3 separate regions of the Homo sapiens genome follow, and all the other regions are reported to be linked to region 3. The links are microRNA targets in miRTarBase. Many come from high-throughput screens and were not tested one by one. Region 3 holds a microRNA gene; each other region holds the end of a gene's coding sequence.

Region 1 (4,000 bases), not on the chromosome of region 3:
GCCCAGGCTGGAGTGCAGCAGCGCAATCTCAGCTCACCACAACCTCTGCCTCCTGAATTCAAGTGATTCTCCTGCCTCAGCCTCCCAAGTAGCTGGGAATACAGGCATGAGCCACCATGCCCAGCTAATTTTTATATTTTTAGTAGAGATGGGGTTTCGCCATGTTGGCCAGGCTGGTCTTGAACTCCTGACCTCAGGTGTTCGGCCTGCCTCAACCTCCCAAAGTGTTGGGATTACAGGCATGAGCCACGGCACCCGGCCTGAAGTCCCATTATTTACTAAATGTTTCCTCTGCTGTTGGAACTATCTTGTAGGCTATTTTCAGATTTATATTATAGATGATTCTATGAGGAACATCATCTTCATATCACTTCTTGCCACTGTAGAATAAGTTCCTTAGGATAGATACCCATAAATAGAGCTTGTACCTCATTCTGACCCTTGTTGCATATAGTAGATATAAACAAGTTTATTCCATTTGAGCACCTTATATGGTGAGGCGGCTATGTAGAAAATAGTGAGTGTGTAGGCTCTGAAGACAGATAGGAATATAAGGGCCATCCCAGAAATGCTAGTGTTTGGAAGAATTGAAATTGTACTTTCCCATTTATGGCTTCTTAACTTTTGTTTCAGTGATTGACATAAAACTGGAAAAGCCTCAGGAGCAACCAGTCAGTGAAGGAGGCTGTTCCTGCTAATCTCCCATGTCATCTTCAACCTTCTTCAGAAGCTCACTGCTTTGGCCCCCTTACTCTTTCATTGACTGCAGTGTGAATATTGGCTTGAACCTTTTCCCTTCAGTAATAACGTATTGCAATTCATCATTGCTGCCTGTCTCGTGGAGATGATCTATTAGCTTCACAAGCACAACAAAAGTCAGTGTCTTCATTATTTATATTTTACAAAAAGCCAAAATATTTCAGCATATTCCAGTGATAACTTTAAAAATTAGATACATTTTCTTAACATTTTTTTCTTTTTTAATGTTATGATAATGTACTTCAAAATGATGGAAATCTCAACAGTATGAGTATGGCTTGGTTAACGAGCGGTATGTTCACAGCCTACTTTATCTCTCCTTGCTTTTCTCACCTCTCACTTACCCCCATTCCCTATTACCCTATTCTTACCTAGCCTCCCCCGACTTCCTCAAAACAAACAAGAGATGGCAAAGCAGCAGTTCTACCAAGCCCATTGGAATTATCCTTTAATTTTACAGATACCACTTGCTGTAGGCTACGGACCAAGATGTCCAAAATTATTCTTGAGCACTGATATAAATTACGGTCTTCTTTGAGGTCAAAATTCAGCCATCATGGTAGGCAGTGCTTGAATGAGAAAAGGCTCCTGGTGCATCTTCAAAATGAGTCCTAAAGAACATACTGAGTACTTAGAAGTAGAAGAACATAAGATGTATTTCTGACTAAAACAAATGGCTCTTTCACATGTGCTTTATTAGACTCTGGGAGAGAAAATTAACCAAGTGCTTCAGAACAGGTTTTTAGTATTTAATTCTTCACGGTAAGAAAATGAAGTTCTAATGAACTGTTTCTCCCAAGGTTTTAAAATTGTCAAGAGTTATTCTGTTTGTTTAAAAAATAAGAAACCTCTTTAAGCAATAGATTTTGCTTGGGTTTTCTTTTTTAAAAACATAATACTGTGCAGGCAAGGCACTGTAAAAGTTTTAATTCCTTCCAGAAGAACCAGTGGAAGAATTTAAATTTGGCGCTACGATCAAAACTACTGAATTAGTAGAAATAATGATGTCTAAAGCTTACCAACAAAAGAACCCTCAGCAGAATAACAAAAACTTTGCTCAGGACATTTGAGGTCAAATTGAAGACGGAAACCGGAAACCGTTTTCTTGTAAGCCCCTAGAGGCAGATCAGGTAAAGCATACATAGTAGAGGGAAAGGAGAGAATGGAAATAAAACTCAATATTATGCAGATTTATGCCTTATTTTTTAGCATTTTTTAAGGTTGGGTCTTTCAGGCTGGTTTTGGTTTGTATTAGATCTGTATAGTTTAATTAACTGGTGATTTAGTTTTATATTTAAGCTACAATTAATCTTTTTTCTTTGGTGATATTTATTTCTTTGCCTTTTTTTTTTTTAACAACTTTCAATCTTCAGATGTTTCGTTGAATCTATTTAGAGCTTCACCATGGCAATATGTATTTCCCTTAAAACACTGCAAACAAATATACTAGGAGTGTGCCCTTTTAATCTTTACTAGTTATTGTGAGATTGCTGTGTAAGCTAATAAACACATTTGTAAATACATTGTTTGCAGGACGAAAACTTCTGAGTTACAGCTCAGGAAAAGCCTGCTGAATTTATGTTGTAAGCATTACTTAACACAGTATAAAGATGAAAAGACAACAAAAATATCTTCATACTTCCTCATCCCCTCATTGGAACAAAACCTTAAACTGGGAGAACCTTAGTCCCCTCTCTTTCCTCTTCCTCCTCCACTTCCCACTTATTGTCACCTTGTAATATTCAGAGAGCACTTGGATTATGGATCTGAATAGAGAAATGCTTACAGATAATCATTAGCCCACATACCAGTAACTTATACTTAAAGATGGGATGGAGTTGTAAAGTGCTTTTATAATACAATATAATTGTTAAAGGCAAGGGTTGACTCTTTGTTTTATTTTGACATGGCATGTCCTGAAATAAATATTGATTCAATATGGCAGATGGGTCATATTCTTTATTTGGAAGAAGTTGTGACTTCTGACATGGGTGTGATTGTCTTCCTACACTGTTGCATTTGATTCTTTTTATGTATTTTTAAGAAAGTAACCAGTTATACTGCTTTTAATATTGATTGGTCTTTTTATTTGGCTTGGAGTTCTTCAAAGCATTGAAGTGTGTTCATAGTCCAGGTTTTTTTTTTAATAAACACAATTTTGCTGCCAAAAATATATAAATAAAACACGAAAGAAAACAATTATTGACCTGGTTTCCCATTCCTGCCAAGATGGTGAATTAGCATTTACTTCTCCCTCTCTGGGAAGACCTTTAAAGCAGACATGGACAGAATCCAGAAAAATAACAACAACAAATGTGAGGAACTCCTAGGGAGTCAAAGACTCTTTTTTTGATGGGGGTATTGTTGGGGGGTGGGGGAGAGGGGCTGCAACTTGAAAGATACATCCCCTGGTGGAGGCAGTAATAGGACATATTAAGAAAAGCATCTTAAGTTCTGCTTTTGCGTCCTCACTCCTAACTATACCTTTGCCTTGGGACAGGAGCCAGCAAACTGTGGCCCTCCCACCAAATGCAGCCTGGAACCAGTTTTAAAAATTAAGTTTTATTGGAACTCAGCCATACTTTCCCACTATAATGGCAGAGCTTAATAGCTGCCACAGACCTTATGGCCCTAAAACCCAAAAAACTGTTTACTATCTGGCCCTTTACAGAGAAAAGGGCAACCCCTGCCTTGGGACAACCATAGCTGAACCCCTTACTGTAAAATGAAGGCCACAGGCCAGAATACTAGTGCAGGTGTCTGCAAGAGTAATATTAAGGCAGTACAAAAGCACTAATAAGCCGATGGAAATAAAGGCAAGGCCCTGAAATAAGTTGTGGCTTTGGGGGATGATACTGATACTGAATGGGAGTGATTACATGTGGGCTTATAGTTCCTAGAACTCTTTGCCCCAAAGTTTGTCCCCTCCTCTCCTTGACAGTCTTGTCCCTTGTGCCTTCCAGACTAGTAGCCTATACCCTGAGGGGAATTTGAACTCACACAGCAATATAGTTGAATACCTAAAAACTGCCTCAAAAGTAAAAGTAAATATCTAAAGCAGAAATACTTTGGGAAAGAACGAATAATTTAAGGATGACATGATAAATATTAAGGAGATAAGATATGAAACAATTTGGAATCATAAATTAAGTGTGAAAAGTTTTTAATTGTTGAAATGAGGAACACAGCCAGGTGCAGTGTTTCATGCCTGTAATCCTAGCACTTTGGGAGGCCGACGTGG
Region 2 (4,000 bases), not on the chromosome of region 3:
GTGCTTGTTAATGAGTATGTCTGGAGGACAGACCTGCTCATTAGGTGTGCTGTCCCCTGTAGCCTCGTGAGTCAGCCCAGAGGAGGGTACATGCGACTGTGGCCTGGCCTCAGTGGTACCCACACATCAGCACTACCACAAGAACCAACACTGAGCCTCGGAAGCTAGATCACAGGTTAGGGGTTTCTCTAGATGGGGGTTCTGAAATTTGCAGTGTCTGCTCCTGGGAGGCAGCACCAGAAAGGGCACTGAAATGTACTAGCTGGATGTGACCCAGTCTTAATAAACAGGTTTTCTAATCCAGATCTTCCGACTGTCTTCAAATTCTTACCTTCTGTTCTTTAGATTAAATGCACACAAAATTGAAAGATGATTCTGAAGGGCAGTTTCCTCAGGGTAGCAGTTTTCAAATGATTTGGTCTTAGGACCTCTTTACACTACTAAAAACTAAGAAACTCAGGTTTTTGTTTTTTTTTTTTTCTTTTTAAATAACAAATTTATTTTTCACAGTTCTGGAGGTTGCCCCAAAAAGCTTTTATTATCTAGATTAAGGTTAATGCACTTTTAAATCATAATGTTAACATTTTTTTTCTTAATAGAGACAGAGTTTAGCCATGTTGCCCAGGCTGACCTTGAATTCCTGAGCTCAAGTGATCCGCCCACCTCAGCCTCCCAGAGTGCTGGGATTACAGGCATGAGCCACCATGCCCAGCCCACGTTAACATTTTTTATGAAGAATAACTTCCAAAACAATCCAAGGAGAAGGGTGGCATTTTACAGTCTCTTTAGTATCTTGTTATAATAAACAGTTGAATTCTTACAGCTGCTTCTACATCCAAACTTTTTTGTTGAAGTAAGTTGACTTCACACAGATACGCAGTTGGAAAAGTTTTTAAAATAGCCTTTTCAGCTAATTGTGGCTATTCTTTGATACCACACCAAGACTACAAGTGATTTTTTTTTTTTTTTTTTTTTTTTGAAATGGAGTCTCGCTCTGTCACCCAGGCTGGAGTCCAGTGGCACGATCTCGACTCACTGCAACCTCCACCTCCCGGGTTCAAGCTATTCTCCTGCCTCAGCCTCCCGAGTAGCTGGGACTACAAGGGATCTGCCACCACGCCCGGCTAATTTTTGTAATTTTAGTAGAGACGGACTTTCACCATATTGGCCAGGCTGGTCTTGAACTCCTGACCTTGTGATCCACCCACCTTGGCCTCCCAAAGTGTTGGGATTACAGGCGTGAGCCACCGCGCCCGGCTTACTACAAGTCATAGTTTCTTAAAGGCAATGTAGACTCCGAAAACTTAATGCACTCTTATATTGTTAATACATTAAAATCCACTGGCCTGTCTTACACTTTTGAATCAATCTTTGAGCCATGCATGATTTTGTAACATCACGTACTGGTCACTTGGAAAAATGGTTCATTGAATTCTTCCAAATGAAATGCATTTCATTATACAAATCACATTTGTTAATATCCCCAACAATAAAGCTCATGGTGGAGTACAGATTTTCGGAAATTCCAATTTTTGCTTGAAAGCTTTATCACTGGCAACACTATCAGTTGTTTCCCTTGAGGTGAGAGGCTCATTCCATTAATTTCCAGAAAATATCAGCCAAATATTCAAGTCTAAATACCGTAATCTGCTAGTTCTTTCAATTCTAAAGGGCATGCCTTGAACACAGCCAATTCAGCTTGCAACTCAACTGTGTAACTGCTTTTCCTCAAGGCACCCATACTTCAGTGCACAGCAGAGGGGCTTTATGCATGCTTCCAGTTTTCTCAGAATATTATAAATTCTCAAGGTCAACTTTTTTTTTCTTTTTGAGACAGGGTTTCACTCTTGTTGCCTGGGCTGGAGTGCAATGGTATGATCTCGGCTCACTGCAACCTCCACCTACCGGATTCAAGCGATTCTCTTGCCTCAGCCTCCCGAGTAGCTGGAATTACAGGCATGCACCACCATGCCCAGCTAATTTTGTATTTTTAGAAGAGACGGGGTTTCTCCATGTTGGTCAGGCTGGCCTCGAACTCCCGACCTCAGGTGATCCGCCCGCCTCAGCCTCCCAAAGTGCTGGGATTACAGGCATGAGCCACTGCGCTGGCTAGGTCAACATTTAATAGTTAACCATTGCTATTTGTTCTATCAAGGACATATCAAAACTACTAGAAGTTTGCTGCCACCACCTTGATTCATGCCACAGTGCCAACAGTTGACCTCACAGATCCTCCCTGAAAGGGTCTTGGGACTCCCAGGATCTGCAGGCCGCATTCTTCGAGAACCACTATTCTAGGTACAGCCCCACTGTCCTTCTAAAATCTAAGGTCACAGCTTAAACTTCAGGGAAGGCTGTAGTTTTGGAGGCCATTGTCACATTAGAACCCATTTAGAAGTGACTGTCAAGAGACAACTTGAGTGAGTCTGAAACTGCCTGCTGATGGCAGTGTTTCTCAACTGGTTTAAATCGCCAGTCCCCTAGGAAGCCTTCTTCCTGATCACTCCCTGCCATGAAAATGGAATATCACAGACACACTATATGTGCTGTGGGCCTTAGGAGGGCCACAAACAACTGCTTGTGATTTTTTTTTATCCTTACTGAAGAACCAATTTGCATCCCTGTTGAGAATACAGGGCTTGTGGCCAGTAATAACTCTCCCTTTTAGGATTCCTGTCTTTCCCCATTTTTTTTCTATCCCCAGTTGCCATCACAGCGTAACGGTGCAGGGAGGTATATGAGGGTTGCTAAGGGAAAGCAGAGGTGCCCCTCACTCAAACCTACATTCAGAAAAAAATTTCCTTCATTATTGATTGGATGTCTTAAATGCAAAGACTTACACAGAAACTGGGAAGGGAGGACCTATTTCAGACAAGGATTCACCATGGAATTTTTATGAATATCCTTATAAAATAGGACTTGGGATGCAGATGGATTATTTCTTTAAGTCTTGCAACTTCAGAAAAGCCTGAGACACATACCCCCTCCTACTATATATAGTGATTATAAATAGTATATTTACCTCCAAAAAATTTAACACTGTGCCCTAATGCAAGAAAAATCTGTGGTATAACAATGTACTCATGTTCTGTAGCTCTTTACTGAAGGCCTCATGTCAAAGGCGGGGAAGGAAAGCAATTCTGTGGCTCTGCACTTCTACCCAAGTCTGAAGAGAAGTGAGCCAAGTTAAATGAAGGTCAAGGATGCTCCTCCTGGTCCTCTCAGGGGCTGGTAAAGTCTTATATGACGTTTTCTGGGGAGTCATTACTCTGTCCAAAGTCGAGGTAGCTCAGAGGCCTTCAGGCCGCTGATACTTCCAGAAGGCCACCTCCCCATCATCACTGCAGGAGGCCAGTAGCCCTGGCTCCTTGGGGTTCCAGGCCACACAGTTGACATCCTGGGAATGGGCCTGATGCAAGTGGGCTGTCAGGGAGAAGGTGGGCTGCTGTGGATCCGAGTTGGGATCCTCCTGAAACACGCGGATCGCGTCATCCCCACAAGCTGTGGCCAGAGCCCCTGTCAGCTGACACCTGGAAGGAAAGTGACATCAGTGGGTATACCTGACTAATTAGGCCAGAGAGACCTGTTCCATAGTTCCTGGCCTGTTCTCTTCCCTAACTTCAGGCCTCAGCTAAAAACCTCTTATTAAAATGTTTCCTTAACTAATAAGGAGTCACAAATATCACCCACTTATATCTTCAGATGCTGCAATCTAGTTCTTTCCCCTACTATGATTATCCTAAAAAACGACATGCAATTATGAACTGCACTTTCCTCACTTGGCATAAGCAGTTTCCCATGTCATAAAGTTGTTTTTTTTTTTTTTTTTTTGAGATGGAGTCTTGCTGTGTCGCCCAGGCTGGAGTGCAGTGGCACAATCTTGGCTGACTGCAACCTCCCCCTCCCAGGTTCAAGCGATTCTCCTGCCTCAGCCTCCTGAGTAGCTGGGACTACAGGCATGTGCCACCATGCCCGGCTAATTTTTGTATTTTCAGTAGAG
Region 3 (4,388 bases):
TAAACACTTCCCTGAAACCTCCAAGAACAGATTCTCACTGATTCCTTGGTGTTCTAGCCCTTGGTGCTATAAGGTGTGATAAGAGCTGTTAGAGCTCTTATCACATAGAATCATCACTGTTTACAGGCAATTGCCACTGCTCTCATGTGATTTCAATGACTTGCTACGGATATTCCTGACTCTATGGTCTTTCTGCATCATCGACCCATAATCCAGCATCTCTACCTGGTTTCAGAACCTCCAATGGTTCCTTACACCCCACTGAGGCAAGCAGAAACTCAGTCACATGGCATGTGCATGGTCCTTTGTTAGCCATTTTCCAGCCTCATCCTTACCATCTCGTGTGCGTATATATTTATAACTTGATGACAGCTGCCATATTGAACGACTTTTACTTCCTTTAAAACACCATGTTCTTTTGTCCCTTCAAGGCTTTTTATGTGCCATTTTCCTTTACTGAAATGCCCTTATCCTAGACTTCTTCTCCTCTTTTGAGAAACCCAGTACAGTGTGTGTGTGTGTGTGTGTGTGTGTGTGTGTGTGTGTGTGTGTGTGTGTATGTGTATATATACATATATATAAAACCTAGTTCTAATTACTTTCTCCTTTTTTGCCTCCCATTGCTTTCAGGTAGGATTAACTGTCCTCTCTTCTGAGTACTCTCTTCACTTTATTTATATTATTAAATTAAGCCTTATCACTGGGCCATATTTTCATGTTTCTACCACCTATCACAAACCTGACCCACAGCAGGTGGGTTATAAAATGTTTTTGCTGCACTGATGGATATATCCAATCCAATTCAACAAACACTTACAAGCATCTGTTACAGGAAAAATCCTTCACTAGGCACTTTGGAAAAATAAATTAGGCATTCCCCACCCCTAAGAAGCTTACAGTCTGGTTAATAGCGTAAAAAGTTGATGCATTAGGAGACCTTGGTATTTAAAAGGAACAGTTTCATGCTGTCGAGAAACTAATTCATTACCATGGATTTTTCTGAAACAAGACTTTATTAAAGCAGGACACACCCTGCTTTGATTAGGCCTGGATTAGCTGGGCCTAGGTTGGGTATCCACTGTCTAAAATTTGTAATAAGTATCAAGGGAGATTGGGAGACCCTAATCCACATTCTCGCCTCACAGAACCTGGCCATTCAATATTAGAATACCCAGAGCCACAATGATCTCTTGAGAAAAATGATGGAAAAACTTTTATTATACTGATAGTAGTTAAGCCTATAGAAACTGGAATTTATAATCAAAAGGGCTTCTTCAAATCTCTGGGAAGAACACCTGTTATGAAGGGAATTCAAGTGGAGGTACGAGAGAATAAAAATGTATATGTCTTTCAGGAGACACTGGTTGACTATTGGTTGAGGAAATTGTTATGGAATGTATTACAAGGAGATGCCACTCAAATATCCTCTACTGTATCTTACAGGGACGCTGCCTAAAATTCTTTAAGATGGGGCACTGTATAAATATGGGGCTGCATGATGGAGAGTTCTAACAGCAACAATAGGGATTTCATAGTGCTTTAGCAATCTCCAAAAAGGCACATTTTAATATAATTTAATCCTGATAAAGCTCTATGTTCTACGCACAAGGTATTGTTAACTCATTTGACATGTGAGTAAACTGAAGGTCAGAGAACTTGTTGTTCTTATCCAGTACCACACAGCAAATAACTGGTAAAGCTGACCGGCGCTTGTGCTCCGAACTCCGCTGGTGTGGTGGTGATACAAGTGAAGTCAGAGGCAGTGGGAGCTGTGGCCGGAATAGCCACAGTTGAAGCCACTGATCATGACAGTGAAGTGGCACACAGTGGCTGCGTGGAAGGACAGCTCTGTCCACGTGGAGGAGAATGGATTAGCCACCTTAACCCTGCCAGGGGAAAGGAAGGAACTGGGAGGCTCGGGGTCCTGTGATTCTACCAGGCAGGGGCTTAAAGGTCAAAGACAATTACACAGATTTTCAGGCCATAGATCATTCCTCAACTACACTGCCCCCAATCCTTGCCTAGCTCAAACCCAAGGCCAATGTGGTAGAGGAAGCAGGGGTACATATAGTATCCATCTTTTCACATACAACACACTTTATTAACTTTGTTTGTCTGAACAGCAAAATATGACTCCTGAGTCTTCCAGAAGAAATTGAGAGTCATCTGACCAAGAAATAGCCTTTCAAACAATTTGGAAACTTGTTTGAGAGTGCCATTATCTGGGAGAGATGATTCTCTGAAATTTTCCACTCTAGGCTCTTCTTTCTTCCTTAGGAGGAAACACCAGTTGTGGTCCAAAAATTCTTCTTGCAGAAACTGGTTTTGTTCCATAGAGCCCACAACCCAACCCAACACCTCTTCGCCTTCCCCCGCCTCCCTCACTCCCAGATCCTTTACCACCTTCTGCCACCTCTATCATTCCTACCTCTACTACGCCTCCTGCTCCTTGAAGGATCCGTGTAAAAGGTCAGCTGGGGGTCGTTTTCTGCCTCTGTGCCAGAATCCCCTTCAGGGTTCAAGAAGGCGGAACCAGCTGTAATGAAAGCAGCATGGTCAAGAAAGCGTTTTCAGTTCTGGTTTCATGACACCAAACCTTTGGGCAAGTTCAATGGGAAAATCAACAAAAATGAAAGTAAGCTGACTGATAATCTGGGAGAAATAGCCAAGGGGGTTGGGGCTTCCTCATACACGGATATGTTGGAGAAGTAGACCATTGGGACAGCAATCACTGGAGCTCTACCCTGCCCCACCCACTTCCCTCTGACTAGGGCCATTTCTGGCACCTATCTGCCAGAGAGGACCTCCAGGGAAAGTGGGTGGAATAGGAAGAAAGGGAAATTTCCCTCATTACAGGTTATGATTCTGTTAATATGAGACTATCTAAGAGGTATAGGAAATTACATCTTTGTGTTTTTTCTGGCTCTAGAATTATATATATTTAATACAAAAAAGACAGAATAGAATAAAGGAAATGCACAAAACTATGTAAAGGGAACAATTCTAATGCCCTCTAAATCCTTTAAATCAGAGATAAACTCTGCTAACATTTCATGTGTATACTCTCTGGCTTTTACTGACACAGAAACAGGTAAAGGTTTTTTAATCTCTCTTTAAAAATGACATTATGCTGTATCTTCTATTTTATAACTTCATTTTTTTTCCCATTTAATAGATGGGTGGGCAACTTTCCATATTAACAAATATAGATCTATATTGTTTCAAATGGCTGCATGGTAAGTGCTGGACAGCAGACAGATGTGCTAGGTAGTTAACCAATTCCCTGTTGATGGACATTTAAGCTATTTCCAATTTTTCACTTGTTTAAACAATGCTGTGATGAACGGCCTTTTACACACTTCTTTGCACACTTGTCCAATTATTTCCTAAGAATAGACTCTTGTTGGTGAAATTACTTGGTCAAAAGGTTTGCACATTTACATTTTTTTGGTAAGTAGCATTTAACTGGCCTCCAGAAAGGCTGTGCCAGGGCATACCCTCTCCAGCCACGCATGAGAGAATGGGTAGAAGATATTAATGGCCCTGCCTCTACCAATATGAAGGAATCCACCCACGAGCCCTAATGTCAGACATGCATACCTCTTGCTTTGTTGTTGATCCGCTTTCTCTGGCTGCTGGAGGTGTGAGAGAGAAGGGTGGCTTGCTGGTGGTTGGAGTCCACAGGGCTAGTGGCTATAATATTATCTTTATACTTGTTCATCAGTGACAGCTTGGCATTGTCACTTCCTGTATAAGGAAAAGACGAGGCAAAAACTTTAAGAGAAAAGACCAAAAGAAAGGGAGAAGAAGGAAATCTGCATAAACCAAGAAGATAAGGTCTCACAGAATTGAAATAAGACACCAGCAAACTGAGAGACTGGCTGCAAGAAACTGAAATACTCCTTTTTTATTTCTGAGGGACTGCAAAGTTATGGGAGAAGCAGTGAAGTCAGGGAACTACAACTGAAAATCCAATTCAACTATTATTATATTATGTATTATAATATTCTGTATTGATAAGGTCAGCACTTGTAACCCTTTGGCTAAATACAGACTGCAGATTTCTTTATTTTTGGTCAGCACAGAGTTTTAAAAGAATTTGAATTTGTGTGCATTCAGGCAGAACATGCCCCTTCTCTTTCATCACAGTCTGCGCCATTCTGTATTGTCTGACCTCTTCTCTGCTTCAAATATCTGTGTTATCTGTTGGCCTCCTAAAGGCATTTGAGTTGATAATAACCCCTGAGTACCATATGTCTACTTTGTGGGCTTAGCACTACACCAGGTGTTATGGTCAATATGAAGAGATGTTGATGATATGTCCCCCATATTCTCAAGGAATTTTCAGGCTTTAAATCTCATTAGAAATTGGCTCTTCATGTAGAATG

Evidence for each region. Region 3 holds the annotated microRNA hsa-miR-488-3p (UUGAAAGGCUAUUUCUUGGUC, at 2,169-2,189, opposite strand). A microRNA usually pairs through its seed, bases 2 to 8, with sites in the 3' UTR of a target mRNA and lowers its output. Matches are read on the target gene's strand: a 7mer-m8 pairs with bases 2 to 8, a 7mer-A1 pairs with bases 2 to 7 and ends in A, and an 8mer does both.
Region 1: the mRNA of RAB6A is a reported target of hsa-miR-488-3p. Seed matches in the 3' UTR shown: 7mer-A1 at 2,119-2,125.
Region 2: miRTarBase lists CIAO1 as a target of hsa-miR-488-3p. Seed matches in the 3' UTR shown: 7mer-m8 at 2,238-2,244 and 7mer-A1 at 1,537-1,543.

The regions. Positions count from the first base shown.
Region 1 is chr11:73,674,596-73,678,595 of GRCh38, reverse strand. RAB6A (RAB6A, member RAS oncogene family) reads left to right here. Exons shown (of 8, transcript NM_198896.2): 8 at 634-2,958. The coding sequence ends at 698. Among named protein-coding and RNA genes, the nearest start is that of PLEKHB1, 30 kb to the right of the region's middle.
Region 2 is chr2:96,270,641-96,274,640 of GRCh38, reverse strand. It overlaps CIAO1 (cytosolic iron-sulfur assembly component 1), which reads right to left. Exons shown (of 7, transcript NM_004804.3): 7 at 468-3,530. The coding sequence ends at 3,290. It overlaps SNRNP200 (small nuclear ribonucleoprotein U5 subunit 200), which reads left to right. Exons shown (of 45, transcript NM_014014.5): 45 at 1-303. Among named protein-coding and RNA genes, the nearest start is that of CIAO1, 6.4 kb to the right of the region's middle.
Region 3 is chr1:177,027,206-177,031,593 of GRCh38, forward strand. It overlaps MIR488 (microRNA 488), which reads right to left and starts at 2,240; the gene lies at 2,158-2,240. ASTN1 (astrotactin 1) reads right to left here. Exons shown (of 23, transcript NM_004319.3): 4 at 3,601-3,747; 5 at 2,429-2,536.